Homo sapiens: one gene and its partners. The protein of the gene in region 3 interacts with the protein of the main gene of each other region in a biochemical or structural test. Each region holds a gene or a part of one and is shown on either strand. Other genes may lie near its edges. The genes, in order: ATXN7, FRS2 and SORBS1.

Region 1 (8,331 bases), on a different chromosome or scaffold from region 3:
AAAAGTAACTATCCTAGTGTGAAATGATATCGCCAGGATAAACTATCTTTTGTGATTATTTTTAAAGCAGAAATGCCAGTTTCTCTTACCTCAGTAAAAGTTGATTTTATAGCAAATCTATCGAGTAAGAGCTAAATATTTTAAAGCTATGTCAAATTATGGTAATCTATTTCCTGTATTAGAAATAACAGCTTTAGGTCAATTTTTAAGCTATTAAAAAACAGTGTCTCTTAGGACAGAAACAGTGTAAAAACCACTTTTGTTAAGCACCCAACTTTTACCTGCCCCAGATGGCTAGAAGGATGCCTACAACTTGATCACTAAGCATGCAATACTCAATACACTTAGGATTTTGTGACTGAACACATTTGGTCTTTTATAACCTGACCAAACATTAACTGATAAAAGGCTACTAAATCATTAGCAAATCATTTCTGTAATTTCATATTCTGAATTAGTCCTTGGTGCTGCTGTTAACCTAATGTTTTTAAGATGAACAGCTGACAGCTGAAATATCTGCCCCCATGATTATGGGGGAAAAAGCGTGGAGGGAACTATGATAATCCCTGACCTTCCCAATGCTACATAAACTTGTAGTTGCTGGTAACAAACCTGTGCCTCCACAATGGCAATGGGGGAGTGGGGTAAAATCCCCATCTGGATAACATGAAAAGCTCTGATAATCACTAGTTTTGGTTTCAAAGCTGTAGAGCCACAGATTTGCATTATGCTTGTGTTTCTGAAGGAATACAAAGGCTATCAGGAATTTGTAGCAATCTGATCCAGGCCATTTTAACCTTGACATACATGGTCAAAGGGTATAACCTTTTTTTTTTTTTTTTTTTTTTCCCCATTTAAAAATATCTTACAGTGGCATAACTTTCCCTGTACAAATTGGGTTTAAGAAACAAAAGGGACAATTTGCTAATCAATGATGAGCCTTTAATCCAACCATTATATATCCCCTTTCCATCCTTAGATCCCTTGAAGAGACCATTTAGTTAAGACTACCAACAGGTGACACCCTGACCTCCTTACCAACCTTGCCTTTTAGAGGTGACCAGAGACCTGTGCTTTTCCAAAGTACTGTTATACGTGTAATTAGTATAATATCAATGTGGGGAAACTCTACCTTTGGATTTTGAGGACTCTGCTTTTCTTGAAACCCTCTGGGTTAGAGACTGTTTATTCATATGCACCTCAGGAACTTGAGGCCAAGATGAAGTTCACTGTTTCCTAGTCCTTTGCTTGTTCTCCTGGCCATTATGTTTCCACCTTCATTCAAAATGCCTTCTCTTTGAAGCTGCTTATAACCCAGCAACACCATCAACTCACTGTGCTCACTGTCCTCAATCACACATCTCCAAGTCACTCTCCCCTCTTCCATGCAAATCATCCCAGAACCAAGCAACCCTAATTTGAAATGGACAACCTATACAACACCCTTGGCTTCACAGTTCCTCAGCCTGAATTCCAGTGCTCTTTTCCTCCATGCTGCTTCTGTCCACTGCCATGGTTTCCACCCAGGAATCACAAGCACCTCTGGCCAGTTCTGCTTTTGAAAATAATACTGGAATTCCAATTCCTCTGGCCAGTTCTGCTTTTGAAAGTAATACTGGAATTCCAATTCCTCCATTCCCTGTCCTATTCCTAAAAGTGCTGTATCACTTTGATAACTCTGGCCCCTGGATCTCACCTTGTAGCCCCTCACTTTTATTGGCCATGTGGAATTAAATGTGGACTTTGCTCTGTGACCCTGAACAAATCAATTGTCTAATCATAGAAAAAGTTACCTGGAAGGAGATTCCTAAGACCTAACAAGAAGATAATTCCAGTCAAACCAATGTCTTAAGAGCACCTGCATAGATTCTACATGGTTGGCTTCTAGTTCTCTTCCCTGAATACCCAGTTCAGACCATCATCAATCACTCAGCCACATCTTCACTCTTTGGCAATCTCCCTGCTCAAGTTCTATCTTTTCCACCCAACCAATACATGCTGTTCCAATTATCCTGGAGAAAACAGCAGGGCAATAAAACGTTAACTAAATAGGTAGATAGCATTGGTAATTATAATGGGATTGACTCAAAACATCTAACCCTGTAAACCATCTCAATGCCTTCCCTTACCTCTCTTTTTACTCTACTGCTCCTTCTCCATTTGTCTTCATGAAAATAGTCTTCTCCAAGGTTTTGTCCTGGGTTTTCTCTCTGGGCCATGGAGGATGGGCTTCAGGTTTGTGATATCCTGGAAGCGGAATATAAAAATGTGGTGTGCCTGTGCCTCGGTCAGACAGGATGCATAACTTCATGTGACTCCTGGAGTCTGAGGAGGGAAAAAATTAAGAATCACTGTTCTGACAGACCTGAATTACCCTGGATCTGCCACCTATTCGTTGTGGGACCTTAAGCAAGATACCTTCTTAGGAGTTCCAATCAGTATGATTGGAATCAAAATACCTGCCCTATGAGGGCTTAGTAAAAGAGAGGATGTATATAAAATGCTTGGCACAGTATCTGGCATATTAAGTACTTCACTAGAGAAGTATTATTTTAACATAATAATAAGCCAAATCGAATAGCTACTTAATTTTCCCAGGTAAACTCCATCTACCCTTATGACCTCACTGATGATCTAAAACTGAAAGACAACTCTCCATCTTTATTTTCCAGCTCAAACCTCCCTCCTAAAGTCCAACCAGCCTGTACAGCCAGCTGGGCACTAAACCAGAATTTCCCACCAGCAGCTCAAATCTATCGTTATGTCTTTTTCCTTCTCTGTTACCATATCGCACATTTCACTTAAAGCTCAATTGGTTTGGCCAAGCTAGAAACCTGAAGTCTTCTTAGACTCACTCTTCCCTTTAATGTTGAACAGAGTTAGACCTCAAGGCTTGTTGGTTCTACTTTTTAAAGATTTCTGAAATCAGTATCACTTATCCTCACAGTCAGCCTTCGTTTGGAAACTTAATAGCTCTTACCTGGATTACAACAGCTTTGTAACTTATTTTTGTCCCAAGGTTCTCACCTGTTGATTCTGTCTTCCATTGTTATTGGAGGGCCATAGGTGGCAGAGATGTTTTTTCCACAAAGTATTAAATTATAAGTGATTCTCCCCTTCCCCCTGGAGACTTTTTCTTTGGCTGATAGCCTCACTCTCCCTTACCTCCTAAGAGATATTCTGGTCCATGGTCTTTGGATGTAGAAAATGAGGATAACAAGTGCCAAGAATTACAGCCTTACAAGGTGAAATACTACTTTAATTAACTTCCATTAACAACAGGAGCAAGAACTTCTTACAGAAAGAGGAGACTAAGAAAGGAGTGAGAAGGGAGAGGAACTTAAGAGTTGATTTAGGGGAGTGCTTTTTGTTAGGACTGGGGACAGGGGCAGGTAAAGACAGATCTTTGAAGCAAAAGAGAGTGAGAATGCAAGACATGGGGAAAGAGACTTAAGTGCTCCTTTGCTTTTCCACAGTTTTCAGTACAGATTTGAATGGCTTTGACTTTTGGCAGCTGCACAGTGCTAGGACTGGACCATGAAATATCTCTGGGCTCTGACAATTACATTTGGGTTAATCTAAGCCTGATCCCATGTGTTCCTGGAAGAGAAGCCCCATGACATTCAAAGTCCTTGACAATCTGACACCAGCTTTTCTAACCCTATAAGGCCCTTCCATCCAGCAAACTTCCTGCAGAATTATTCTCTATCCCTCACATGTTCATACCCATGCTCGACGCATTTGCTCTCTCTGCCTAGAATCTTACTCTTGTCTGCCTTTCTGCCTGGTTAAATCCCACATACGCCAAGATCCAACACTGCTAAACCCCTTTCCTTGAGTTGGGATCATCTTGTTATGCAGGGCCGGGATACCTGCAAGGGAATGGAATTAAAAAGGTTAAGAGATTGAGCAGTTGAACCTTTTCTTGGGAGGTTTGAGGACAAGCCATAGTGAAAGGATTTACCTACAGAGAGCACCTCATTATTAGATTTGTGGAAAGTACTGAGTGGATGGTTGACTCAAGTAAGGAGGGAATGGGAAGTCCACAGGGCAGTAGGAACTGAAGCCAACATGACTCTTTCATATCAGGTATGGACATTCTTGCTAACACACAGCGGTTCCTCCTCTTATTTTAAGCAACAAAAATAATTTATCAGAATGGTTTATTTGCAAACAGTAAAAATGTCTGGATTTCTAGAGGTAAATGATTATGCTGTGTTCCAAATAATACTAAAATGCACTTGTATTGCCAGTAAGGGAGGTATGTAAAAGAAAGGAAGAGATTAGACCGGGTCTGGATAAAAAGCTTATCTTAAACCAAAACTACATGTCATCAAATTTGCACCTAAGTACAAATAGAATGTGTTTCTCAATCCATCAACTCCCTCGTTTCTTTCACAAACATGCAAGGCCAGAATACAGTAATGTTCACTGTTTACACAGTTACTAATTTATCCAAAGCAAAGCTTTGTGCCCCCAGATGGAAACATCCCCAGGCCTTAGAAGTATTTAGCTTATATAAGAGGAAGGCTAAATTGAAGGGGCTTCACAAGGGTGTTCCATGCCAAAAGTGATGAAAAGTCAGAGTAGACTGAAAGGGTTTAGTATCACAACGAGGCAGAAACGTACAATATTTCATGCAGCCAACCTTATTTATTGAGAAGTCCTAATTTTATTGCCCGTTTAGTAACATGTTTGTTCCACAAGCTAATTTCTTATAAAGCAAAGCACAACCTTTTCTTATAAATAGTATAAATTATTTTATTTACAGAAACTTGTTACAAAACAAATAGACTATATATTTCTTCTCTTTTAAATATCCAAAGTAATTTTCTATCCCTTGACATTTGTTCATGTTCTATACAGCAGCCAACACAAAGTCCAGCTGAGATGCTCTTGATTATGTGTACAAATTATCAAACTATTCACACGTTTTTAACACAGGAGATTGCTTTTATAACCAAGCTCAAAAAAAAAAAAAAAAAAAAAAAAGCAAAATGCTTTCAAGGCCCTACATTCACACTGACAGTATGTAGTGCTCATTTAAATTATCTGAAAATGTAAAATGTTTTGCACAAAATGTAAAAGTGATTATTTTCTGCTAAACAAACTTTTAAGAATATTTTTTCAAAGCCCAATCGCCCCAAACCCCCTGGACAGAATGAGCGACATTAAGAAATTCCTTGGCAACAGAACTCTTGCAGGAAGACAGCTGCCCTTATAAGTTACATTTTTCAAATTATACATTTTTTTCAATGTTCTCAGAGGTACTTCTTTGTATTATATTTTTGGAATACAAAATATTTTAAATATTTTAAATTGTATTTCATGAGTGAATAACAAAACGGACACATCGTGTAAGTTGCTGGCTGACAAAAAGATCTGTAACCCTTGGTGCCACCAGGCAATCCATCACCAATTGAATTACTATGAACCAAGAGGTCTTAATTTTAAAATACCTTATAAAATTACCAGCATTGGTGGTTTTCAACTCCGCCCCTAAAATTTTAGAAACAATATTTAGGTGGAAAAAGCAAACTCCAAAAGTTCAACTGAACATTCAAGTCTTTTTAAAGAGATTCTGTCTAAGCTTAAAACTAGTTTCAGGCACTTTCAGTTTTTTCCATTAGTTTTAAACCACATCACATAGTAACATACATGTGCTGAGTATACACACACACGCACAGGCACACACACACGCAGTCACATACTCCCACACATAAAATACTAACAAAAGAAAAGCAGTGTGTCACTTAGTTACATGTAGTCTATCGGGAAACCAGGCAACCAGGAAGAAGCAATGCCCACTTCATCTGTATGAATCCACTCCCGAGACACTAAAAGGGACAAAGACTTTTCACAGAACAGAGGCATCCCTTAAAACTGTAAAGGAGGCAGGTTCTAGAACTATTGGCTTGGCAGTGAACCACTTCAAATTATAAAAAGGTATTTACTTTTATTAATTAATAAATAAATACTAGATGATCTCAATTGTACCAAAACAGGATATCAGAAAAAAAGACCTGTGCAAAAATACATATTTAAATATGTACAATTCATTTTTAACAAAATATGTCTTCTGAAATAGGGATACTTCCATATTTATAATAGAACAAGAAATTCCAAAATAAAGATACAAAAGTAGGTTTTGTATAATTCTTTGTTCATCATTGCAGCACTTTTTTTTTTTTTTTGTAGGTTAAGAAAACTGCAGGAGTTGTCATGAAATTCTATTGGAAAGAATATAAAAATTATCTTGGTTTTAAATTGATACCAAAGTCTGTCTAGAAACAACCCAACCACTGCAAATTTGGTTTTTGCAAGTTAATTTAATTCAAAAAAATACTTGTACTCCCGTGTTTTAAATGGTCTTAATTATTCATCACCATAAAAAGTAGTTTAGGAGAAAATAAAATATTTGAACAACAGTCTAAAATTTAATAGCACTGTTTAGAATAGGTCTGTTTGTGGCAGACAGAATCCAAAATGGCTAATTTCCTAATCCCGATGCTCTGTGTATTACCGGGAGAAATAATGAAATTCATTTAAAACCTCAGTCTAAGAAATCAAATGTTCAATACTTGCTAATCTAAATATCTACATTAGTCTGAATCAACTTGTTATTGTGGATCCTATTCACATCTTTCGGAACAACATGATCGATCTGTAAATTCCATTGCTAAAGGCAACTTTATTTATAACCATCAAGTCCTCTTGGCTCTGAAAATAAATTCTACCCATACCCCATTGCACTTGTCACCAAGGAATCAACTAGGTACGTTCTGATTCCCTCTCACCTCTCTCTTCCCCGACTGGGATGGAAACCAGACTGATTTCTCCCAACTATGCCAAACTGGCCCATCCATGCCCTCTCCTTACTAAGCTCTCCTGTAGTATCATTTTAAAAACATTTACTGATTGATTGCATAATAATTGAACAAGATACTGTTCTCTCCTTCCTTTAAAAAAATCAGTATTTTACATCAATTTATAGCTAAAGTATCTGCATAAAGTTTTTGTTTTCTTACATAATAAGAATAATTCTGTAGCAATTCACATTATTAGGCTGGTAACCAAGTTTATTCATTCTACCTGTTGTTGACTTGAAATTCCCTGAAACTGAAGTTTGAAACCCAAGAACTGTAGGAAAAAAAGAATGTACTGACTGGCTCTCATCAGGCCCTGGCCAGGGCAACGATCAGCGCCTTGGAAATTTTACCCTGTGTTCGGCAACTTCGTGTGTTCTTCTAAGCAACAGTGCCTGTTACTCGTGTCAGGAGCCTGTAGTGGTGGAAGCACCCATTTAAAGGCTCCGGCTCGTCCCGGAATTCAATGACACCTTCTCCAAGCAATGCTGTTTTAACATATTAAGGTCTTTCTTTAGGGGTGGGGGGTGGGGTACTAGAAAAAATATCCTAGAGGGCTCCAAAACTCTCAGGAAGATGGCTGGTATAATCCCAAGAAAGGAGGGTGTGTGTCAGGGCAATCCTATACATGCATCACAAAAGACCTTCAGGTCAGGACTTACATTCTCTCCAACTCCCTTTCCTTGGTGTCTGCTCTCGTCCCCAACCACATCCAAATAAACATCTGAAGTGGCATGAAGGGGAGTGCATACAAAAACACACAATGCCAGAAGTGCTTGAAGCAGAAATCTACACTTAGTCCCAGGACAGTATCCAAAGAGAAAAACAAGGGTAATGTAGAGAGTGCCTTGGAAACATTTAAGTGTATCTAATAATGTCACTTTAAAAGGTGACTTTTAAAAATAGACCAGGTAGGACAACCAACCCAATCTGCCATACTGTTTACTATGAAAACTTAAAAGGATTAAGAAAATTTCATCTCTTTGGAAATCTTGAAAAAAGTTTTTTCTCCCTATAGTGATTTTAACTTCCTCACTCCCACCCTCCCCCGACCCAATTTGGCCTTCCTTTCTCAAAACTAGCTTGCATTTTCTTTCTTCTTAAAAAAAAAAATCACACAGAATTGCTTTTGTATCATGAAAAGTAAGCCTCCAAAATGATTTATACTTGCTGTCTGGGCATCAAAAATTTCAAACCAGTTTGTAAGTTAGAAACTTCTGACAGCTTCTTTTCCCAAATTACTCTCAAAAGGCTGGGCTATTTTGTCATGGTGTCTTGGGCTAACATCTATATTTCATTCCTGGAACATTGCTATCAAAATCTAAAGCCTAATTCCCTTCTTCAGAGGGTTGCTCGGGATGCAGCCCTGTGTTCTCTGGAAGGTTTCTGGTCTCCAGTTAAGGTGCCTAACTGCTGGAGAGTGACCTACAGATGACAGTGTTAAAAAAAAATGGTAGTAAAAGGA
Region 2 (11,235 bases), on a different chromosome or scaffold from region 3:
GATCACCCCCTCTAAGAAGCTTTGCTTGAAAACCTCCACCCCTAGGCTGAGTTGGATGCCCTTCCTTTGTGTGTGTCTTTATCATGCCAGTTACATCAATCACTTGTGGACATGTCCATCTCCTTCATTGTTTAAATAATTTCCATCTTGACCTGTACTCAACTAAGGCTTTGCAATGTCACTCAGTGGCTAAAAACAGGTTTGAAGTCCCAGAGCTGAGAACTACTATTTGGAATGATCACACAGCTAAAACTGTGAGAAAGCCTGTCATATAGTTACAATTTCATTTTGATATCTTCATTTTGAAAATGGAGGCAGTGATATGAGACTAGGAAAGAAAATGTCACAAAGTTTCAAGTAGTATGTGAAATATAAATACAATAAAACTTTTAAGTAGATATCCGACCAAACGTTTTATTGGGGTTTTATTGCAATCTACTTTCAGCAATAAGGGGAAAGTGAGCATGAAAAGAACTCCAATCAGACTTTATTCAATAAAGCAGCTTTTCATGAATGCTTCAGGTCAGTGTATGATCAGCTCAGCTTCCAGTATCAACTTGAGTACCTCATTATGGATATTTATGCTAGAATGACAACAGTAAGGCATTGCAAAATCCAAAGTCATCTAATATTAAACCATATTTTACATAATTTGTAGGACAGTATACTAATACTCTACAATAAATAAGGATTTAAAAATGTGTTGCTTAGCCCTTGAACTAAATTCAATTACTAGCTTATTCTAAGTACTCCAGTTAATAAACGTTTGATTGTAAAGAACTCTGACTTCTCCAAAGATAAAAAAAATTAGTTGTCATGACAAAAATTAAGCTTAAAAAGCACATTCACACTTGTCCTTAAAAGCAAGTTTACATCATATATGAGAAAACTTTTCATGCCTGATGACATGGCTTATATGGCAAAAAACAGTCATATGCAAAGGACAACTAGAGGGCAATCGTCCCATCCCCACTTCCTCCAAAAAGCCACACTCGGCCTCAGTGTAAAAGTTATATTTTATTGCCATGCTACAAAATGTATGAAGTTGGCACTGATAGGGAGAAATAGAGAACAAAGGGTGGGAAGGGATAGAGGGAAAATTATGTTGTTACATATACAACAAGGTTTTATTTTAATTAACAGTGGTTACGTTTTGCCAATATTAAAAATGCAAACCAAAATTTAAAATGCTGATCTGAAACAGCATTAAGATACAATGTATGCATAGTACAGTATCACTTATGTCTTTTTATTAGAGAAATATGGAATGTTTATAAAAGAAATTAACCATGGGGGTAAAATTCATATTTCATATACAATTTGGCAATGGTAGTCCCACTGTTGGACAATTTTTTATAAAAGAAAAAATTAAAAATCTAATAAGCTACCTTTATACAAAGTTGCTATATTTATGCCTTTACGTAGGAAAAAAACATTTATAATGCAAATTAGGACATACAATAGTCTTACAATATTATACAATGTAATGAAAATAAAACATAACACAAAGTTTGTCCTTTATAAAATGTATATTTTGCATTACTAATGCAAATGTGGCACACTGGTGACTACTGTACTACTTATACCAGTCTGTTTCCATGCTATAACTGTCCAATTGCCATAGAACTGCAATTATAATGATGCTACAAAAGAACTGTGTTATACCAAAAATGAGGAAGTAGGGATGGGGAACAGGGATGTAAAGAACAGGAAAGATAGATAGGGTGCTGGTTTGGGCAGAGTATACTGTGGTACGTCATAAAATATGTTAATTTTTCAAGCCAAAAACATTTTCTTTACATTCTGTAATTTCGTACCAATGCCTTTATTCAAATTTGGCAAACATCAAGGAAAAGGTAATTAGTACCATATACCTCACACATCAGAAATATGAATGAGATGCCAATACATCAGTTACTTGTGAATGATGTCTCTGATGGTATGTCTATTTCAAGAATATATGTATTTATACACACACACTACACATTGCACAAAACATTTGGGCATTATAGGTTAGGAATAGCACGGGGGAATTGGGAAGTACTTTTTCATCTGTTAAAACCTTTACCTTGAGGCAAAAATATGGCGGCACATTGTTGGGAAATTATGAAAACATAAGGCCCCTGTCCCATTTTTAATAGAACATTATTGAGGTACATTTTTATATGCTGTGCCACAGTTTTGGGGAGGGGGAGGAGATAAACACTAGCTTGACTTGTTCTATTTATAACATTGAACGCTGGAGAGGGTCAACATTAGTATCTATAAAAACAAAGATTGCTTGGCAAATTTTCCTAAGTCCCAGATATGATGTATTCTGGATATACTGAGAAGTGAAAAGCTTTTTGCTGAATCTTAAAGAGTAAAGTGCATATCTCATCACTCCACAGCAGCAGTAAATAAAAGGAAATATTTGCCAGTCTTCCTGGAGGGAGGGAAGGCACCATATTTTCATTTTTAGAAGAAGATGAAACTGGGAAATAAAACACACTAAGAAAAAACACAAGTAATACCAATATCAGTTTCCAACCCTAGCATGGGATAGATGCTGTTATGATTTGTATGGATAAAACAGTATTCTATTTGGAGGGAAAACATTAACAATGATTATATTTCCAAAACCAAAAAGAAGGATCACATGGTCTACCAACAGAATTATCTAAAATTAGATCTGCCTCAGAAAATCTGAGATATATGGCCACAATTATATGCTAATAAAATATCAATATTTCATTCTAAAATGCACCTAGTAATAGGTACATCCTTCGAGGACACAGCTTAATGCCCATTACTAAACTACTGCAAAGGACAAGTAGTATTCTAAATTACCTTTTATTAAATAGGAACACAAGTGATTTCTAGAAAATATCTAGAAATTAACACCAGTTGTATATATTTTCCTAATACTCTTATAGTACCTAAAATCAAATTCTTAGCAGACAAATTGGTCCCATTTTCCTTTTTAAAGCACATAGTATTTAAAGCATAAACTGTAATGATTATATTGGAGTTATCTAAAAAAAATAAAAACTAATTAGAATCCGGGGGAAACAATGAAAAGGATGACGGAAAGAAAGAATAAAGTACCCAACCTCCAAAATGAATAAATAGATCAGCCCTTGCATTTGGAGATTAATGTTCTGCCTTGACTGGCTGTTTCAGAAAAAAATGTGCAATGGTTCCATCATAATTCTTATTCCACATTACAAAAACTATTACATAAATTTGGCACAATTAGCAATTTACTCAGAAGAAAGGATAAGTGGAACAATATATTAAAAATGGAACCTGCATCATGGAAACTGCACACCTATACCACTGCTCTCTTTTAAGAGAACAGTGAGCACTTTAATAAGCACCAAGTTCACAGGGGAACAAAAGGGAGAAAAGAAAATTCTGCTATGCACATAGAATGATAAAATACACTGATATTGATTTATAGTAAAGACACTAAAAATGGCACTAAAACGATAAAGACACCTTTAATAATTTATTTTCTTTATAATGATCCCACTCTATTGTTCTCCTAATCCATCATTGTCCTATGATTCGGTTACTGAATAGGTTGGATGCCAATATGACTAAAACTTTTTCATGCTAAATTAACCTTAGTTATATCTGGTAGATCCAGATCATAATCTCAAACTTCCTCATATTTAGAGAAAATAGTAAAATATTTTGCAAGGTTACCTAACCTTTTCCACTCTACCTTCTCTCGTATTCTCTAGTGTTTAGGAAATTGGAACATCTTTGATTTTCCAAGAGTTTGACATATGGAGACTCTTCAGTTTATATAAACTTTAATTCATTTTAAATCCTAAATTATGATACAATCTCACTGCTACAAGACTTCCACTGTACCTGCTATGCTGGCAACAATATTAATATTTCATGGAAATCGAAGGATAATCAAAGATCCAGCTACAAGTAAAAGGACAGCAGAGCTGAGGAACACTAGAGTGGGCAGAGTACAACTGCAGCGTGTAGCTGGGGGAATTACTGCTAAAGTGCTGGGGAAGAGTGCCCACAGAGACAACACGGTACACCTTGAGGGAACTTTGCATGTTAAAAGTAGCTTCCTTTTTTTCTCAGTTTGCTAAAGAGATCACCTATGGACACAAGCAAATTTAGAATTGGAGAATGTTTTTATCAACTTGAAAAGTAAACAGCTTATAAATAAATACTGGACAAGGGCAACCCTGTTACAGACTAACAGTAAGTTCCAAATGAACCTTCAAAACCATAATTTGACAAAAATGCAAACTAAACAACAATGAACACATAATCCAATTTCAAAACTATATACAAACTCAAACATTTTAAATTGAAAAGGACATAAGGCAACAAAATAAGACATCCCAAACACCAAAGAAAAAAACTGAAGATAAATGGAAACCTAATGGCACAAATGCCTCCAGAAAACAATGTGTTGTCAACAATCTATAGGAGAAAAACTTTCAGGAGATTGTGGTTCAGATTTTCAAATGTTTTTGGGTAAAGTGACCTGAGACTGATTCTTGAGCCTATTATAATTTTAAGATATCTGGACATGCCCTTCAAATGACATCATGAGATGAGTAAATAGAAAATCTTGTCTCCTTCCTGCCTTTCAGTGCACCAACAGCAAAGCACACTCATGGACACAGGCCGCTTTCTAGTAACACTGAAGGCAAAGGAGCTGACTGGTGTAAGAGGAGGTGCGGTACTTCTGTTTCCTTTACATATGTTTTGGCTCAAGTCAAAAAGCCATTAATTAATGAAATAAAGGATTCCTCATGTTACATGCTGGAGGCCACATACTGTGAACACTGAATCTACGAGCATTACTTTCAAAGCCTATAGTTACCTGTTAGCAATGTACATTGTCAAGAGGCTTTATAAAAAGTTTTAAAAGCCAACCATGACTTAGACATGAAAGGTATGCGTTAAGTCCAGAATATTGATAAAAATCAACCAGCATGTCATTTACTTCAACTCTCATTTTAAATAGGCACTGTGAAAACGGGAATGCTGCTGTACAACGAGTAGTATATAATGAAATTAGTGTTCTTTAAGGAGTACCTGCTCTACATTAATTCCCTTTAGTTAAAGATGCACATGAAATATTCAGAAAAAAATTTTATCAGTCTATAAAAGGAGTTAGTGTTTAGAAATGAAAATGAAGCACTTGCATCTTCATTTTTAAAAACTTCACAAAGGTGCAAACAACACAATGCTTTCCAGGCTCACATGGGCAGATCAGTACTATTGTGTCTAGTTTTCCTAGATGTACCATCATCTCGTGGCAGTGCTTTCTGCAAATTTGACATAGCAGCAGTTCTCTCGATGTCTATCACGGCATACAGCTCTGTGCGCCTGGTAGGGGTTTGTGGAAGGGGAGTTGTAGGCGTTTTTGGAGTCTGAGGGTTGTCAGAGTCACTGCCACCTTCCAAGTCAACCTGTATGTAATTAAGCTGCCTGTGTTCTAAACTTGGGCGTCTGATATCAAAGTTAAAGACTGTTGGTGTACAGTCCCGACGCCTTGAATATTCTATTTTGTGAGCACTTGCTGGCACTGTTACATTCTCTGTATTTACATAGTTATGCATTGGATCTAGATTATTATGGTAGCCATTTAGAGATGGGGTCTTTGGTCCTAAATTGTCATCTTCATCCCTACTTAGCTTGCGGGCTTCCCAAACAGGAGGCAAAGATGGTAGATTTTCATAGTTTAATAATGCAGTTCTTCTCTGAGCTGAGTTGTTGATATTCTGGGTATCTGAGGTACTGGTGGATGTCAGACGACCTCTCCTGACCCCTGAGGCACTAGGGATAGATAGCCCATTTATATTTTCATACACCAGTTTGTTAACAGAGGGTGCATCTCTTCGTTCATCACTGTCATAGCCAGTGTCCCATTCTGTGTTATTTGCTCCACTTCCACTAACTTGATCTCTTCCAAGTTGCTCCAGTTTCTCTTTTTCCATTAACTGCTTTTGAACAGGGGTTGGCCCTAAAACAAATTTGACTCCTTCAGGTTCAAGAAGAATCTGAGGATCCCTGTCCTCAATACTACTTGGTTCTTCTTTTGGTGTGCTGCTTTCAGCGTTAGAAACCCTCGCCTCCAATGGAACATGCACACTTGTGCGGTTTTTCCGCTCTTCTTGCACACCTGTAGTGTTGACATAGGTATGTACCTAAAACAAAACAGAAAGTGAATTAGTTAACTTACTTAAAAAAACAAAACTGAAAAAAAGCCTGACCACATCAGTTAATTTTATTGACAACAGTTAACTGTATTAACTTTCTCTCCAAATGTACTCTTACTTCAAAACTTTTGCACCTGTTTTTTTATTAATAAAAAGGTGGAAAGAGAAGGAGAAATGTAGAAATGTCTTCCTAATTTGATAAAAGAATAACGACTTCAAAATAACACGCAGGCTGGGCGCAGTGGCCCATGCCTGTAATCCCAGCACTCTGGGACACTGAAGCGGGTGGATCACTTGAGGGTAGGAGTTCGAGACCATCCTGGCCAACATGGTGAAACCCCGTCCCTACTAAAAATACAAAAATTAGCTGGGCATGGTGGTGAGCGCCTGTAATCCTAGCTACTCTGGAGGCTGAGGCACATGAATCATTTGAACCCGGGAGGCAGAGGTTGCAGTGAGCCGAGATTACACCATTACATTATCAGCCTGGGCAACAGAGTGAGGCTCCATCTCAAAAAATAAAATAAAATAACATGCAACATTATATTTGATTGTTAAACATGATAAATATTATGTAAAAAATAAAAATCAGGAACAAAATAGGGATTATCATTTTGCTGCTGTTTTAGAGGTTCTCAAAGCATTAAAACATGATCCAGAAATAAATAACGACTTTGAAAAGAGATAAGTTTATCCTTATTTACTGATGATCTGAATGTATAAGAAGATTAACTCCACTAGATTTAATAAGAGTTCTGTAAAATGCATATATATAAAATAAATGCCACCAAGTAAGAAATTATCACTATTTAGAAAAGCTTAATAGTATTTTGGGGAGATAATATAAAAATATTTACAAGGGTCGGGCACAGTGGCTCACGCCTGTAATCCCAACACTTTGGGAGGCCGGGGCAGGCAGATCACTTGAGGTCAGGAGTTCAAAACCAGCCTGGCCAACATGGTGAAACCCGGTCTCTACTAAAAATATGAAACAATTAGCTGGATGTGGTGGCCTGCGCCTGTAATCCCAGCTACCTGGGAGGCTGAGGCAGGAGAGCTGCTTGAACCCGGGAGGTGGAGGTTGCAGTGAGCTGAGATCATGCCACTGCACTCCAGCCTGGGCGACAGACCAAGACTCATGTAATTACAGTAAATAATATAACAACTCATTATGTAAAGAACACAAAGAAACTGATTTTAAAAACACTAAAAACTTTTTAATGTGACATATGGTTTACAAAACATAAGTATAACTAATTAATACAGAGGTTCCAACCAGATACTTCATTCCACACATGAAAACTAGCATACTCGGGAACACTAAATAACTCCATAACATTAACAGCAAAATCTACCTTCCTACTCGTAGTTCACTGACTATAATGGCTAAAATATGAAAAGCAGCATAAACTCTTAATCCATTGGACATTCTTATAATGGGAACTGACCATTAGTTATGCCTTTCTTAATCTATAGATGTACCTCTTCTGTGAACCCACAAGCTACTGTAATGGTAAGTTCCCCTGAATACCCGCATATATTTGAGCATAAACCAGCAAATATATGCTATCTCCTCTGATTGTTCACTACAAAAGTAATTTACAAACAGATAAAGTTAAACTTCAAGCTGAATAAAATCTTCCAGTATTAGCACAGTGATACCCTAACTCTGAACAATCATTATTGCTGTTACACAGTAGCACATGCTTACTTGTTCCTCAGCCACAAGCAAAGGATGTGTAGATTCTTCCCCTACTGAAGGCAGGCGAGCACTTCCCACAGAAGGATGTCTGCTTGACGGATGGGATGAAGCATCTCCAAATGAGGGATATCGGGGATATCCATTAGGTAAGTTCTGAGCAGCAAATCCTGGAGCTGAGTTTTTGTTTATTGGTTTAAGGAAAAGGGGGGCGGGGCAGAGAGAATAAAAATGAGTAAGAATCGAATCTGTACTGAGGATTATAGGAGGTCTTTCTGCCAAGACAGCAGAAATCAGAGCACAAATAGTATTACCCCCAACTCCATATTTTACCTAATATGAAATACTGAATGTTTTCATTTTTTAAATATTTGAAGTACTTAGAACTACGGCTGTGTTTTTTTGTTCTGTTTTGTTTTGTTTTGTTTTTGAGACGGAGTCTTGCTATGTCGCCCAGGCTGGAATGCAGTGGCATGATCTCAGTTCACTGCAAGCTCCACCTCCCGGGTTCATGCTATTCTCCTGCCTCAGCCTCCCGAGTAGCTGGGATTACAGGTGCCCACCACCACGCCCGGCTAATTTTTTTGTATTTTTTTAGTAGAGATGGAGGTTCACAGTGTTAGCCAAGATGGTCTCGATCTCCTGACCTAGTGATCTGCCCGCCTCAGCCTCCCAAAGTGCTGGGATTACAGGCGTGAGCCACTGCGCCCGGCCTACAGCTGTTTTTAAAAACTGACAACCATTATACTTCTGTTATCCAGTGGTGATTTCTAGTGTGTTATTGATTAAATACCCACAATCTATAGCTTACAACTAAACGTCTGTTATTCAAAATGTGAAAGGGAAAAGGGGTACTTACTTGTAGGTGTTCGAGGTGTTCTAGGGACTTCCAATTCTGTCTGATGATTATTTCTTTCTACAACTGGCTCTTCCACCACATTTATACTATTATTTTGCATAATCTCTTGCAACATGTTAAATAATTCTTCTGCACGGGCACACTTAAAGGCAAAGATTCCTACAAATATAAACCAAAAGGGAAAAATAGTTAACATACCTTTAAAAAAAACTATAGGAACACTTGACAAACAGCAGAATTGTAAAGTAAGCATTCTACGCACCGAGTCAGAAATCCCTTTTAAATAAATATCTGATAAATTAATGATTATTCTCTGTTTCAAAACAAACCCCCGCCAAAAGTTCACAGAATAATTTTCATTCATCTAAGGGAGATGGCCCAAAATAAAGCTAATGAAATCAAGACCTGCGCACTTACGCTAGTCTGTTTCTTAACAGCAGGGGGAGCCCAACTCACTATTCCAAGGTGATCATTTGCCATGTAACAGGCCCCTTGGAAAGTCCCTAGGTGTTTTCCAATTGTTATCTTGTTTAATTATTACAATAATTAAAAGATAGGTATTACCATTTCCCTTTTATAGAGAAGAAATTTAACATTCAATGGAAGTCCTGTAACTTGTCAAGGCCATTCAAGTAGTAGGTAGTAAAAAAATCAATGATAAAGACACTTAGTCAATTTAGCTGACCCAATCATTTACTGAAAAATCTTAAAGTTGACATGAGCCAAAATTTCTCACATAGACAATGTGCTTAATAAACAGTTGATAAATTAATACACAGTATACTATATCTTTCCTTAACAATCTGTTTATTTTGGGATTTTTTTCAGAAGAAAAATATTAATTTAATCTTTGTATACAGAATAGCTGAAAAAACAATTTCAAATACAATATTTGGGAAAAAAAACAAAGGTTCTACCTTGTCCAGTTTGACACCTTCGACCACTTTCAAAAGAAAAGAGATTCGAGTCATAGCCATAGCGTCGCAGGCAGAGGTAGTGCCATTTTACTGAGTCACGTTTGCGGGTGTATAAAATCAGTTCTGTGTCTGTAAGTTCCATTATGCCAGAACCTAACTCATTCCCATCATCATCCACATTAATGACCTAAAAAAAGAAGGTGACAGTCATGCAAATATGTCACCAATTCGTCAGGAAAATGCATTGTTGCTAATTAGTTATTTGTAATTTGTTAGTTCATTCATCAACCAATGTGTGTATCAGGCATGGACTACGTAGCCGTGTAACACCCAGTTCAGATCTGTAAGAAATTTACATTCCCACTGGGGAAACAAAATGTAGAAACACAAAGTCAATACCACAAAAGTGTATGATTAATTGACAAAGGAATGCAACAGAGGCTGCAGAAGGCAGGAAGTGTGGTCTAAGGTTGTTGAGACACCTTCATTTAAGAGGAGGAGGGCCTTTAGCTGGACCGCTAGTATAAATAAATTTACGCAGAAAATAAAATCAGAGGGGAAATCTAGTGGGTCAGGAGATAAAGGGACATCATAAAGACACAATGTTAAAGCAGAACAAAAAAAGTACCTTTCAAAGACACCAAAATAGATTGGCACAGAGTTCATATGAGGAAAGGCTTTGTACTGCTGAGCTTCAGAAAACATCCAAAGACTAAGAGCAGTAGGTAACATTTAGGGAGAAGTTACTATTCCCCTGGGAGTAGGAAAAGAGCTTTACATGTATTTAACCCTCATAACAATCCTAGACTACACTGTACAAAAATGGAATTAAGACTCAGTAATAACGTAACCTGCCCAAGGTCACAAAGCTTATAAAGTGACAGACTTACACCTAGGTTTGTGTGATCAAGGCTATTCTTTGTAACAGATCGAGGTCAAATTATCAGACACAAAACAGCTATAGCAGCATTTAGCCTACAGGTAAAATAACACCACACAATTTTAGCAAAGAGGTTAGTGAATGATGAGAGAAGAAGATTAATTTGATGGTGACTACAGGATGAATCAGAGGGTGACTTGAGGTAGAGTCCAGTTAAGAAATCACACAGGCACACATGAAAATAATAACTGAAAGACAGATAGTGATGAGATTGAAAAGGCACCCCGTAAAATGGCATTTTAAAAACAGTATTACCAGAACGGTATGGCTAATTAGATACAGAGGACCGAAGGAAAACTAAAAAAAATTCCATACTGTAAGAAAATGTTGTCATCATTTATTAAATCAAGAAAGACAGGGTGGAAAGAAAGGGAAATAGAAAGGTTTGGTGATAAAAGCCAGAAATAAGATATGTTAAGTGAAATAAAAGAAGAACACCCAACTAGGCAGTAAGATATATAACTCAACCAGTTTTACTGACCTTAAACTTGTTCCGATGGTTATCTGGGACAGTGTCTTTATCTGGACAGCTACAACAGCTACCCATGGCTTCTTCAGAAGACCATGTGTGCACTACATGAAAAATAATTTGGAAAAATTTATTAGATGAAGGATACAAAAACTGTAAACAG
Region 3 (12,010 bases):
TACAAATGAGGGCCCACAATAAACACATTTTCGTAGAACGTCAATTGTATTCAACAGTAAAGCAACTTAAATACTTTTATACTAAAACCAGTACACATATATTACAGAGAATACAAACCTAATGTGACAAGGTGACTTCTTGTTTGCAAGGCCCACTTTAGATACTAAAGTACTTGCTGACCACTGAGCATCAAGAGTCAATCCTCTCTGTAACTAATTAGAGTCAGAAGAAAATCATAAAGCGGTACAGCATCCATCCATCAAAGAATCCGGGAACTTTACACCAGCAACTGTCGGTGGGTGCCCACCCTCCCAAGGTGGGCAGAAGACATACCTTGGGTCCCACTCAACACTAATCAGAAAGTTAACAAGCATCTCATTCTTTTCCAAAAGGGTCTGGGTCCTGCTACAGCCAGTTAGGTTAGCTCAGCCTGAGGAAACAGAGAAAACAACGATGCTAATTCTTCCTAGATATACTCTCTAGGCCATAGCCCGCCAGCCCCTATTCTAAGCAGTACCGCAGTCACTGAGAAGAGCCCCACCTCCACTATCAGCACCCCTAACCCCTTACAGTACAGGCCTCTGTTACAGAATGCATTAAAGACACTTTTTCCATGGAAGGAAGTCTAGAAACAGGGTACATCCCTTGAGAGAGGGTGTCCCTTGTGGTCCACAATACAAGGGTGGAAACTTTTTTCTATTGTTGTGAAAACAATAACCGCATGACAGAGACCTGGGAACTTTTTTTTCTATAAAAAGCCACTGCTGACCACAGAAGAAGTGGGGGGATAAATCAATGGAAGGCCACACAGAAGTAAAAAGCAATTTAGTTGGATTTGGTTCATTTGCCTCTTTTTTGTTTTGTGTGTAAAACACATACACATTCAAAAAAGACTGAATTCAACTGATTTTATTTATTTATTTATTTGGATGGAGTCTCACTCTGTCCCCCAGGCTGGAGTGCAGTGGTACAATCTCGGCTCACTGCAACCTCCACCTCCCAGGCTCAAGCAATTCTTTCTGCCTCAGCCTCCTGAGTAGCTGGGATTACAGGCACCCATCACCACACCCAGCTAATTTTTGTCTTTTTTTTTTTTTTTTTTTTTTGAGACGGAGTCTTGCTATGTCGCCCAGGCTGGGGTGCAGTGGCGCGATCTTGGCTCACTGCAAGCTCCGCCTCCCAGGTTCATGCCATTCTCCTGCCTCAGCTTCCCGAGTAGCTGGGACTACAGGTGCCTGCCACCACACCCGGCTAAATTTTTGTATTTTTAGTAGAGACGGGGTTTCACCATGTTGACCAGGCTGGTCTTGAACTCCTGACGTCAGGTGATCCACCTGCTTCAGCCTCCCAAAGTGCTCGGATAACAGGCATGAGCTACCTTGCCTGGCCCTCGACTGATTTGAAATGAAGAACAGAGAACATGAAATTTTAATGGCAATAGATTAAAAGAAACTACAAAGATATATTGTTGATAATAAAGAAAGAATGAGGGAGGAGGGCAAGGAGAAAGAGGTAAGAAAAAGAAATGGATAGTGGAGGGAGATGTAGCAAAAGAAGAATGGGAGACAGCAAGATTCAGGGACGGGTCCACATGCCTAACCGCACACAAAAAGGGGGAGCCACCAAAGGACCCACAGAGACACTTTCTAGGGCTTGAAGAGTTAGCCAAAGTCAGTTACATTGTTCATGGCCAGCTGTTGGCTGTAGCTCCAGACCTTGAACTATTATCACCTTTTATCCTTGCCTTTGAATGGTTAGTGCTCTGGTCAACCACTGTTCACAGCTCTTTAATTGCTCATTGAAACATTCTGAGGCTTAGCTTAGGTCACAAGCCAGAAGCTCCCCCAAATGAGCTACAATTCAGTAAATCATTCATCTCCAAGTATCTCCTCTGAAAAGGGAGTATTCGAAACACTATCTCATAAAACATTCAAAGCACCGATGAAAATCCAAGGAGAAAATGCTGCTTGCACTGAAACGAAATCCATGGAAAAGTGTTCTGAGTTTTGCATTTACAAAAAAACCGGGACTTCAGCAGAACTGAGTCCCACCTCAGCATCAGCCAGCATCACCACCCGCACACCTGACTTCCCACATGTCCACATTCTGCATGCTCCCGTGGATCTAAAGGCCTCAGTTGGTCCTGAAACTAAGCAGCCTCCATGACACTTTGCAATCTGAGGGTCAACAGGAGCAATCCCAAGGAGATTCCAAGACAGTCTCAGGCTGAGGTTGAACTCTCAGTCCACCCCCCCACCCCCCATCCTAGGCTACCAAACCTCCCCTCACTTCACCCCAAGGGCTGCAGAAGAGCTCAGCTGTTTCAGAGACAATAGAGCCTCCCCCTTTCAAGCTCCATCCTTTTCTCCTCCAAGCTTGGTTTCTGTGTTTTTCCCTTCCCCACATAATCTGTCCCCAGCCTCCTACTTTCTCGTCTGTTTCTCCAATCTCTCTCTTCTTGTGCTCCTATTTCCTCCTCATGTTTCGCTATTCCATCTTAGAATCATTTCTCTCAGAGGAAGAGGGGGCTTAACAGATACATATAGGCCGGGCACCGTGGCTCAAGCCTATAACCCCAGCATGCTGGAAGGCCAATGCAGGCGGATCGCTTGAGTCCAGGAGTTTGAGACCAGCCTGGGCAACACCGCAAAACTCTGTCTCTACAAAAAGTACAAAAATTAGCTGGGTGTGGTAGTGCGTGCCTGTGGTCCCAGCTACTCGGGAGGCTGAGGTAGGAGGACTGCCTGGGCCCAGGAGGTCGAGGCTGCAGTGAGCCATGATTGTGCCACTGCACTCCAGCCTGGGTGACAGGTGAGACCCTGTCTCAAAACAACCACCACCACCAAAAAACAAAAAAACCCAGATACATCTGGAAACAAGATCTACAATCTATCCCCCCGAGTTCCCACCCCAGCTCCACATCTTGCTAGCTGTGCAACCTTGGAAAAATGGCCAAACCTCCCAACCCCTCAAATTCCTCAGTTTGGCGGGGAAGGGGGAGGAACATGGCAATCACAGAGGTCTTTTATAACTCTCATCTTCTAGATAGGTAAACGTTCACCTGTGTAACCATGAATAAACCAGCAAGTTAAACATCCACAGGGAAAGAGAACAAATTACAGAAACTCCCTTTCCTCAGCAATCTATCATCCCACCCTCATCTCCCACAACCACTCACTCTGGGGTCTGTGCCTCTCACTCTGGACCGTTCTAGCTCTGAATTGTTTACATACTTACAGTAAAACCTCACAAATCACACTAATCAAGGAAAAGGTAGATGTGAATCCAACAGAAGCCTGCATCCTAGAATGCTTCTTCTATGCCATTGTGCAATACTTTGAATTTATTATCAATTTAGCAAACAGGAAAGAACCTGAAAATGCCATCACAAACTGTGACTCTAAGAACAGTGGAGTTGTCAGGAACCCTGGAAGACCTTCTGCCCTATCATCCTCCACTTCACCAGCAAGGACACAGGCCCAGAGAGCAGAAGCCACTAGCCCAAAGCCCAAAGATTGGTGGCCAGGACCAAAGCTAGCTGTCCTGCCTCTGGTCCAGAGCTTCTCCACCAAAGCTTTTTGAGACCATCCATGCCTTTCTCCTAGAGACAGGTCAAATCCTAAATTACCATAGAGTGCCCTCTACAGCAAATCTATCTCCACATCCAGGGAAGGGTCTGGAGATAAGTTAGGATGACCTGATCATTATCAATGCTGCACAATAAAAACTTTCTTTCCTGGCCCTGCCCTTTCATTGTTTACAAAGAAAACCCTAGACTCTGCTATCTGTATTGAACTCTTATTTTAGAGAAGGGGAAAGAGAGGAACAGCTGAACAGTGCTTTGTTCTGCCAGGAAGAATTTGCTCATCCTTTCCCATAACTCCTACCCACTCCCCAATATGCCCAATCTCTTCCGAAAAGTATACAGAAACTCTCCAACTACAACAAATGAAAGCAGGTAGGAGAAGGAAAAGGCCAACAAGGCGGGTATCGTCCACAAGATGACAATACCCTCCCAACTCTTTACCCCACAGGGTAGACAGCAGTTCATTTCAGTTGCTAATTCCCTGCAGGGAAGTCGCCAAAGGAGTGGTCTCAGGGCCCTCCAGCTGAGAAATGTGCTCTCTGCAACCCCTGGAGAACTAACCCTTTCCTAACCATCTGCTCCAACAGTGCCTTGGGCAAAGGTGCCAACAGACCAACCCTTCCCTTCTTTCCCCTCAGGCCAAGAAAGAGACATCAGAGCTTGGTTGGCAAGGGGCTATTTAAGGCAGCATCCAGAGGGCGGGGCAGAAAACTGCTGGAGGCATCCTCCTCCTCCACCCCTCCCCCTCACAGCCCAAACACACGCCCCTCACTCTGTAGACAGCCATCTGCCTCATCGGTGTCTGAAGGCTGTAGATATGTCCATCATCTGTCTTCTGTCATTGATGCTGCTGACCCCTCTGTGTCCACCCCACTTTTAATCCAACCCTCCTCTCTTCGATCACCACCAAGATACCTTTCCAACCAAAACCACAGAATTGAATCTAAGCAGAGGAGCTCAAAACACAAGGAGAGTGAAGACAGCCAATCCATCCCCCGCCTCCACTTAAGAGGAAAAAAGGGCGCGGGGGGCTGGGCGGGGGGGGGGGTGTTGAGGGGAGAGATGGAGTCAGAGGCCTGACACGCCAGATAGGTTCCATGATGTCTCTAGATGAACCTCCCTCCTATTGACGATGAAACCAATTCCAGCAATTTCAGCAGGTCGGCCCTGTGACAACAGGGGCATCCCAACGCTCAGTGTTTAAAACAAAAATCCAAAGGCTCGCCCAGAACATGCTGGGAAAAACCGAGGACTGAACAAAACGAGCCATGCTCAGTGGGATCCCTTCTGCTTTTACGTAGCAATGTAATAGCGTAATAAATTCTTGTCTGCCTGGAGAAAGCATGCACTGGTGAATTTCAAAGCCATCTTACGACAGCGGATGCATGGGGATGCAGAATTCGACAGCACATTCCCCCATGAAGGAAACATAATGACTTCAAGCCTCTTTCCCCTCTATCTTGAATGGCGCTACCACGTATCAAGGAAGCCACATCGGAAAGCAGCGAGGTGGTAGCAGGGGATGCCCGGGGAATTCGGAGAAAGGAGTTGCTTGCTGTCCATGTCGGTGATGAGCTGCCTAGCAAGATGCTGTCAGCCACTCGGGGAGAAGAAGGGGCACGGGCGGCACGGGCAGGCGCCGTGTCCCCGGCGCATACTAGTCCCCGTTCATTCAGGCGGGTCCGGCCAACCGCGTCGTCCTTGCGCCCCTCCCGCCGCCCTCTCCAGGGGATGCTGATGAATGAACACACCTGAGATGCCTCCATCCCGCCGCTCGCTCCCTCCGCCTTCCTCTGGCTGCTGCAGAGGTGCCCCTCCTCGGTAGTTTCACTTTACAGCACAAACCCATTCGGGCTTTGATGTCTCCTCCACCCACCCAAATTGCAGCCACCCTGAGACGGGCGGACATTCTCTCCTAGCAGAGGCCATGATCGTACTACCCCACACCCACCAAAAAAGGAAATTTAAAAACCCCCAACCCTGGAAGCCCCCAGATCCTCCGCACCCTGGGGAACTTTCCTTGAAAGACTGGGGATTCGCCGAGCAGGCAGGATGGACGGTTCGGCCGCGAGGGACCACCGCTTTCCCTGTGCCCATGGGGGGATGCTCTGGGGGAGGGGGTCCCCCAAGTCCCTCCAACAGCTGGCCCTTTAAATGCGCCTCCTCCGAGCGCGGAACAAAGGCGCCGCCCGCGGGGGCCGAGCCGCGCACACCCCCGGCGCTGCCGCCGCCGAGCGGGCAAGCGCGGCCGGGCGGGCGAGCGCGGGCTTACCTTGCTGGTCGCCGGGCGGGCGGGCTGCGCGCGTCCGCCCCACTCGCACTACACGCTGCAGCTGGCCCCGCTCTGTTTTTCTGGGACTCAGCGCTGACTTCACCGACACTCCGCGGACAACCAATGGGCTGCGGTGCCCGCCCCCTCATTAGCATGCCTCTGGAACCGTCCACTCTGGCAGCGCCCGGCCAGCGGGCGGTGCCGGGGGCGGGGCCGGGCCCAGCCGTGACAGGAAGGGGCGTGTGCGCGGATGGGAGGCGAAGAAGTGTCCGGCGCCCGGCTCCTGGCATTGTGAGCCCGCCGGCCTCCGCCGGTAACGGGCGCGCGGGCCTAGTAACCCTTTCCGTCCTGGCCGGGCCGGACGCTGGCCTGGCGCGCCTTCTGGTCCTTCGGAAGGGTCGCCCACGGGGAGCTTGGAAGGAACCTTAGACGTAAAATAACAGTGATAAGTTATTTAACTCCTGGGCCTCAGTTTACCCATCTGTAAAATGGCATAATAGTCCGACTTCGTAAAATCTAGTGAAGATTAACATAGTTAACATAGGTGATGCATTTTGATCAGTTCCTGGCCGTCGTGCTACATAAACGTTTGCTGTTGTCATTCGTGTGCTCTGTACCAGCCAGTGTGCTTAATGCTTCCCGGATATTTCCTCATTTGATCCTCTTAGCCTGATAAGAGAGGAACGATTACTAATCCATATTTTTCTAGTGAGAAAACTGAAAATAATTACTATTTTTATGCAGGAAAACTGAGGTGTAGTTTAAGTGGCTTGTCCGAGGTCACACAGCAAGTGGTGCAACCAGGATTTGAACCCAGGCTCTGAGATTTCACTCATGCAACACACATATATTTAGAGGCTCTGTGGCAGTGCTGGACCCCAGTGTTAACTGCAGAGAACAAGACAGGCAAGGCCTTTTCCCTTAGGAAGCTTCCATTTTAGTGGAGACAAGTAAATAAATAAGATCCTCTACAATGTGAAAAGTAGAGTGCATACAATGCAACAAGGTCATTGCAAGTGGGGGGAAGGCACCGTGTTAGATGGGGTTCAGAGCTAACCACTGTGCTATGCCATTCTCCTGACCTCCTCTAGTCCCCCTCAGAGTTACAGAAAAGGAAACAGAGACAGGGATCAGAGTGGGGAATCTGCTGGCCCAAGGTCGCAGAGCCAGCAAGTACTGGTCTGGAACTTGCTCCCTCCATGCCCAGCTTCCCACATCCCTGAAGATAAGACACTCGCCCTTTGGGCTGAGCACAACTGATTTTTGTCAGCTGCCCTTGCAAGCATCTTCAGCCAGAGCACATTCTCAGTGAACAGGCTGTGGGTGGCAGGGTAAAGACTGGCCTTGATAACTGCACAGACTGATCGGAAACTCATCAGCAAAGATTCTTAGATGTCAGGGAACGGTGACAAGTCTTTGGTGACCACCTGGTGTCCTCTGCTGTGTATTAAAAAAAAAAAGAAGAGTCCTAGCCATCTGGAAGCTTACTCTATAAATGAGAAAACACTGGGGAACTACTCAACCTAGGGAGCCCCCAGCCCACGGCCTTCCCCTATCTGCACCTCATCCTGCAGCTTTTCAAAGAACACTTCCCCGGCTCTCCTATTTATTTACTCCACAATCTGTGTAAGACAGCTCTCTCTGGGCTATAAAGTAATAAAACAGCTAGTATTTATTGAGCACGTCTAGGCTGCTATGCACCGTACTATACTTGTGCTAAGAGCTTTACATGCGTTAACTCACATCCACCACACGACCCCAGGTGGGAATAGTGTCGTTATCCTGAGGTTATCCACAGAGGTGTATAACAAAGGGTAGAGAGACTAGTTACTTACCCAGCAAATTCAGGGCAACACCATTTTAGAATAGCCAAAAAAAAAAAAAATCAAAACAATCCAAATATCCAATTTGAGTGCATTGGTTAATAATAGTACAACCATATGACAGAATATCATATATTAATAGCTACAAAAAATGAAGAGGTTTATTGACACATAAAGATGCTCATAATAGGCTGGGAGTGGTGGCTCACGCCTGTAATCCCAGCACTCTAGGAGGCCAAGGTGGGCAGCGGTGGATCACCTGAGCTCAGGAGTTTGAGACCAGCCTGGGAAACATGGTGAAACCCCATCTCTACTAAAGAATCCAAAATTAGCTGGGCATGGTGGCGTGCACCTGTGGGAGGCTGAGGCAGGAGAATTGCCTGAGCCTGGGAGGCGGAGGTTGCAGTGAGCCAAGATCGTGCCACTGCACTACAGCCTGGGCAACAGAATAAGACTCCATCTCAAAAAAAAGAAAAAAAAAAAAGATGCTCAGATTATTGAATGGAAAAATAGGTAGAAAACTAGTTTTATACTGCAATCCCATTAGAACTATTCTTATGGGATTGCAAGTAATTATTTTTGCTCATCCATAGTCTTCTGATTTTTTTCTTCATAAACATCTACCAACTTGTCCAGTGAAAATAAAATAATTTTAAGATGAAAAACCAGACTCTATCAATGAAGATTTCATCTACACTATCTCAAGGAATCTTAAGGGAGGCCTAAGGCTTCAGGTCATCCCTCAAATATTGAACCTCTCTGCTGTTTCCAGTCTGTGTCACTGTTGCATGTCTCACTGTAAGGCATAACATTGCCATTAGGATTTATGAAAGAAATGGTAAAATAGTGGAAAGTCAAGAAAGAAGGAAAGTGGAAAAAACAGAAAGAAAAATCCTACTGGTGGCCAGGCGCAGTGGCTCACGCCAGTAATCCCAGCACTTTGGGAGGCCGAGGCAGGCGGATCACGAGGTCAGGAGTTCGAGACCAGCCTGGCCAACATGGTGAAACCCCATCTCTACTAAAAATACAAAAAATTAGCCAGGCGTGGTGGCACGCACCTGTAATCTCAGCTACTCGGGAGGCTGAGGCAGGAGAATCGCTTGAACCCAGGAGGTGGAGGTTGCAGTGAGCCAAGACCACACCACTGCACTCCAGCCTGGCGACAGAGCGAGACTCCATCTCAAAAAAAGAAAAGAAAAGAAAAATCCTACTGTCCTTCAGGACTCATCTCAGGTGTCTCCTCCAAGAAATGTTGAAAGTCACGGTCTTTCGATGGGTTGGGTTTTTGTTTTTGTTTCTGTTTTTGAAACAGGGTTTCACTCATTCCTGTCACCCAGGCTGGAATGCAATGGCGCAATCTCGGCTCACTGCAGCCTTGATCTTCTGGGCTCAAGGGATCCTCCTGCCTCACCCTCCCAAGTAGCTGGGACTACAGACATGGGCCACTGTGGCCAGCTAATTTTGTGTATTTTTGGTAGAGACAGAGTTTCACCATTTTGCCAGGCTGGTCTCAAACTCCTGGACTCAAGCGATCTGCCCCCCTCAGCCTCCCCAAGTGCTGGGATTACAGGCGTGAGCCACCACACCTGGCCAGTCCTTCAATGTTTTAACGCTGAAAGCAACCCAAGAAATCATCAGGTGTAATCGTGTCAGTTCATCCTATCTCCAGTCATTCATAGATTCATCTGGGCAGCAGGCCCTGAGCTAGGTGCTGGCTACAAGGTGGTGAGAGAGATACTTGCTCCCTACTTCCCAAAGGTGAGCCCTAGGGAATCAGAGGCCCAGGGAGGTTCGTTTGGGCAGGGCCAGCCCTGTGTGGATGCAACCTGTGCTGAGGAGGGCCCCACACTTGATTACATGCTCTGCTGTCACCATCTTGAAATTCTTCATTTTTGAACAAAGGGCCCTGCCTTTAATTTTTGAACTGAGCCCTGTAAATTATGTAACTTGTCCTGGGGAGGGTGAACCTTGAGGCCTTGTCAGTGCATCAGTGACTGACCCTTGAGTAAAACAGTAAAACTTCCTGTTCTCCAGTCTCAGTCTCCACCGTTTCTCTTAAACCTGGGTCCACAGGGAAACGGGAGGACTCCTGCCTTCCAGCCCTACAGTGCTTCATTTCTTCCTTTCTCATGGAACTTGCCATATTTGGCATAAACTCCTGTATATTTGTGTGTAGTCTTATCCCTCATTTCCTCTCCCCAGCAGATTGTAAATTCCATGAGGTCGTGCCTTGTGTCTGCTCATCTCAAACAGTGCTTAGTCCTGTGTTTTACACGCTGTTTAAAATGTGCTTAAGTTTAATTTAATCTTATTAGTAACTCCTCGTTTTCTCTTCATGTGTATCAGATTATTCCCAGCAGTCCTTCCGCTGTTGGAGAGAATTTAAAATATCAGGCGGAGAGTCATGCACACAAACCAGGATCATAAACATGCTGTGGGACGCATCCCCAAGCAGGTCATAAGTGTGAGGAATTAGGAAAGGAGGGAGCAGGATTTTTCAGAGGACAGCCCAGAGTCGTCAGCCTTTACTTCATCTTCAGAGCCACACAGATTGGGAGAGAGGGAAATAAACTAGAGGCCCTGGAGCTGGCAGTAGCATAACAGTTAAGGCTGCGGGCTCCAGAGACACCTGGCAGAATCCTAGCTCCAGTGCCTAGTGTGCAGACTTCTCTCATCTGTAACCTGGAGAAAACACAACCCTCCATAGGTTTACTTGCAAGCTGAAGATGAGATCGTGCATGGATAGTGCCTACACACTGCCTGACACACATAAGCATCAATAAGTGAATATTATTTTAACATTACTAGGAGGCAGTGTTGAGAAAGACAACTTCTTAGAACACGTTGGTTTTGGTAAGTTGTTTTCCCAGTTACCCGAAATATTGACCATAGTCATTTTCAGAGATGCCGTGCTGGAGAATGCCAGGAGAAAAGAAGAAAACCAAATGAGAGAAAGAGAGTTATGAATCAAAGAGTTTTGCTGCTGTATCACCAAACACCCCTTGATGATTTTTGTCTAATGCCTTCTGTAGCATCTTACAGAAAGCGAAGCAAGTAGTGGAAAGAGCAAAACTCCTTAATAACTGATTGTCTTGTTTCTTACTGATTAATTACTGAGAAAAAAGTAAATCTACAAACGCGTGCCTCAGGGCACGGAACTGATTTGAAGATGATGGAACGCCCGAGCCAAGAATTCCACATTCCTTAGAGGTCAATGCTGGTGGACAATGCTTTAGGGAAGTTTGGTGAAATGGTGGAGGTTGATCAAGAGAAGTCTATGGGGCCAGGTAGAAACCCAGAGGAGTAGGAGGGATTGCTGTGCTTGGGAAGCAGGGATAGGATGAGTATGAGTAACCCCAGGACTCTGGTCACAGGGCCTCTGTTTATCAATCTATAAACACTGGCTCTGGCTGGCACACTGGTGCGCGCCTGTAATCCCAGTGCTTTGGGAGGCTGAGTTGGGAGGTCACTTGATCCTAGGAGTTTGAGGTTATAGTGAGCTATGATTGCACCACTGCACTCCAGCCTGGATAACAGAGCAAGATGCTGTATCTAAAAGGTAATAAAAATAAAAACACTTGCTCCAGTGTGTCTTGTGTTGTTGCTTGGGAGAAAACTTGTACACATAATAGCACCCCAAATATTGTACTGTATTTGACCAAATATCCAAGGTTTGGCTTGGAGATTATTTTATGCTATTAGATAGTCAAAATAAAGACATTTAAAATGTTGGCCTGACCAGGCACAGTGGCTCATTCCTATAATCTCAGTGCTTTGGGAGGCTGAGGCAGGAGGATCACTTGAGGCCAGGAGTTTGAGACCAGCCTGGGCAACATAGCAAGACTCTATCTCCACAAATAAATTTTTAAAAATTAACTGGGCAAGGCCAGGCATGGTGGCTCACACTTATAATCTCAGCACTTTGGGAGGGTGAGGCGGGTGAATCACTTGAGGCTAGGAGTTTGAGATGAGACCAGCCTGGCCAACACAGCGAAACCCCACCTCTACTAAAAATACAAAAATTATGCAGGTGTTGTGGCAGGTGCCTGTAATCCCAGCTACTCGGGAGGCTGAGGAAAGAGAATTGCTTGAACCCAGGAAATGGAGGTTGCAGTAAGCCGAGATCGTGCCACTGCACTCCAGCCTGGGCAACAGAGTGAGACTGTGTCTCAAAAAAAAAAATACATAGATATTAGCTGGGCATGGTAGTGTGTACCTGTAGTCCTAGCTACTCGGGAGGCTCAGACAGGAGGATACCTTGAGCCCAGAAGTTCCAGCCTCCAGTGAGCCATGATCACATCGCTGCACTCCAGCCTGGGCAACAGAGC

What was found.
Region 1: the proteins of SORBS1 (region 3) and ATXN7 form a complex in vitro, tested with the Homo sapiens proteins (one study listed by IntAct).
Region 2: the proteins of SORBS1 (region 3) and FRS2 form a complex in vitro, tested with the Homo sapiens proteins (one study listed by BioGRID).

The regions. Positions count from the first base shown.
Region 1 is NC_000003.12:63,999,867-64,008,197, reverse strand, and holds the end of ATXN7 (ataxin-7), read right to left. Parts: 3' UTR 4,736-8,331; downstream 1-4,735. UniProt on the Homo sapiens protein: Acts as a component of the SAGA (aka STAGA) transcription coactivator-HAT complex. Mediates the interaction of SAGA complex with the CRX and is involved in CRX-dependent gene activation.
Region 2 is NC_000012.12:69,568,946-69,580,180, reverse strand, and holds the end of FRS2 (fibroblast growth factor receptor substrate 2), read right to left. Parts: intron 11,177-11,235; 5' UTR 11,151-11,176; coding exon 11,085-11,150; intron 9,851-11,084; coding exon 9,664-9,850; intron 8,906-9,663; coding exon 8,747-8,905; intron 8,064-8,746; coding exon 7,900-8,063; intron 6,177-7,899; coding exon 5,226-6,176; 3' UTR 388-5,225; downstream 1-387. UniProt on the Homo sapiens protein: Adapter protein that links activated FGR and NGF receptors to downstream signaling pathways.
Region 3 is NC_000010.11:95,555,461-95,567,470, forward strand, and holds the start of SORBS1 (sorbin and SH3 domain-containing protein 1), read right to left. Parts: upstream 5,912-12,010; 5' UTR 5,860-5,911; intron 1-5,859. UniProt on the Homo sapiens protein: Plays a role in tyrosine phosphorylation of CBL by linking CBL to the insulin receptor. Required for insulin-stimulated glucose transport. Involved in formation of actin stress fibers and focal adhesions.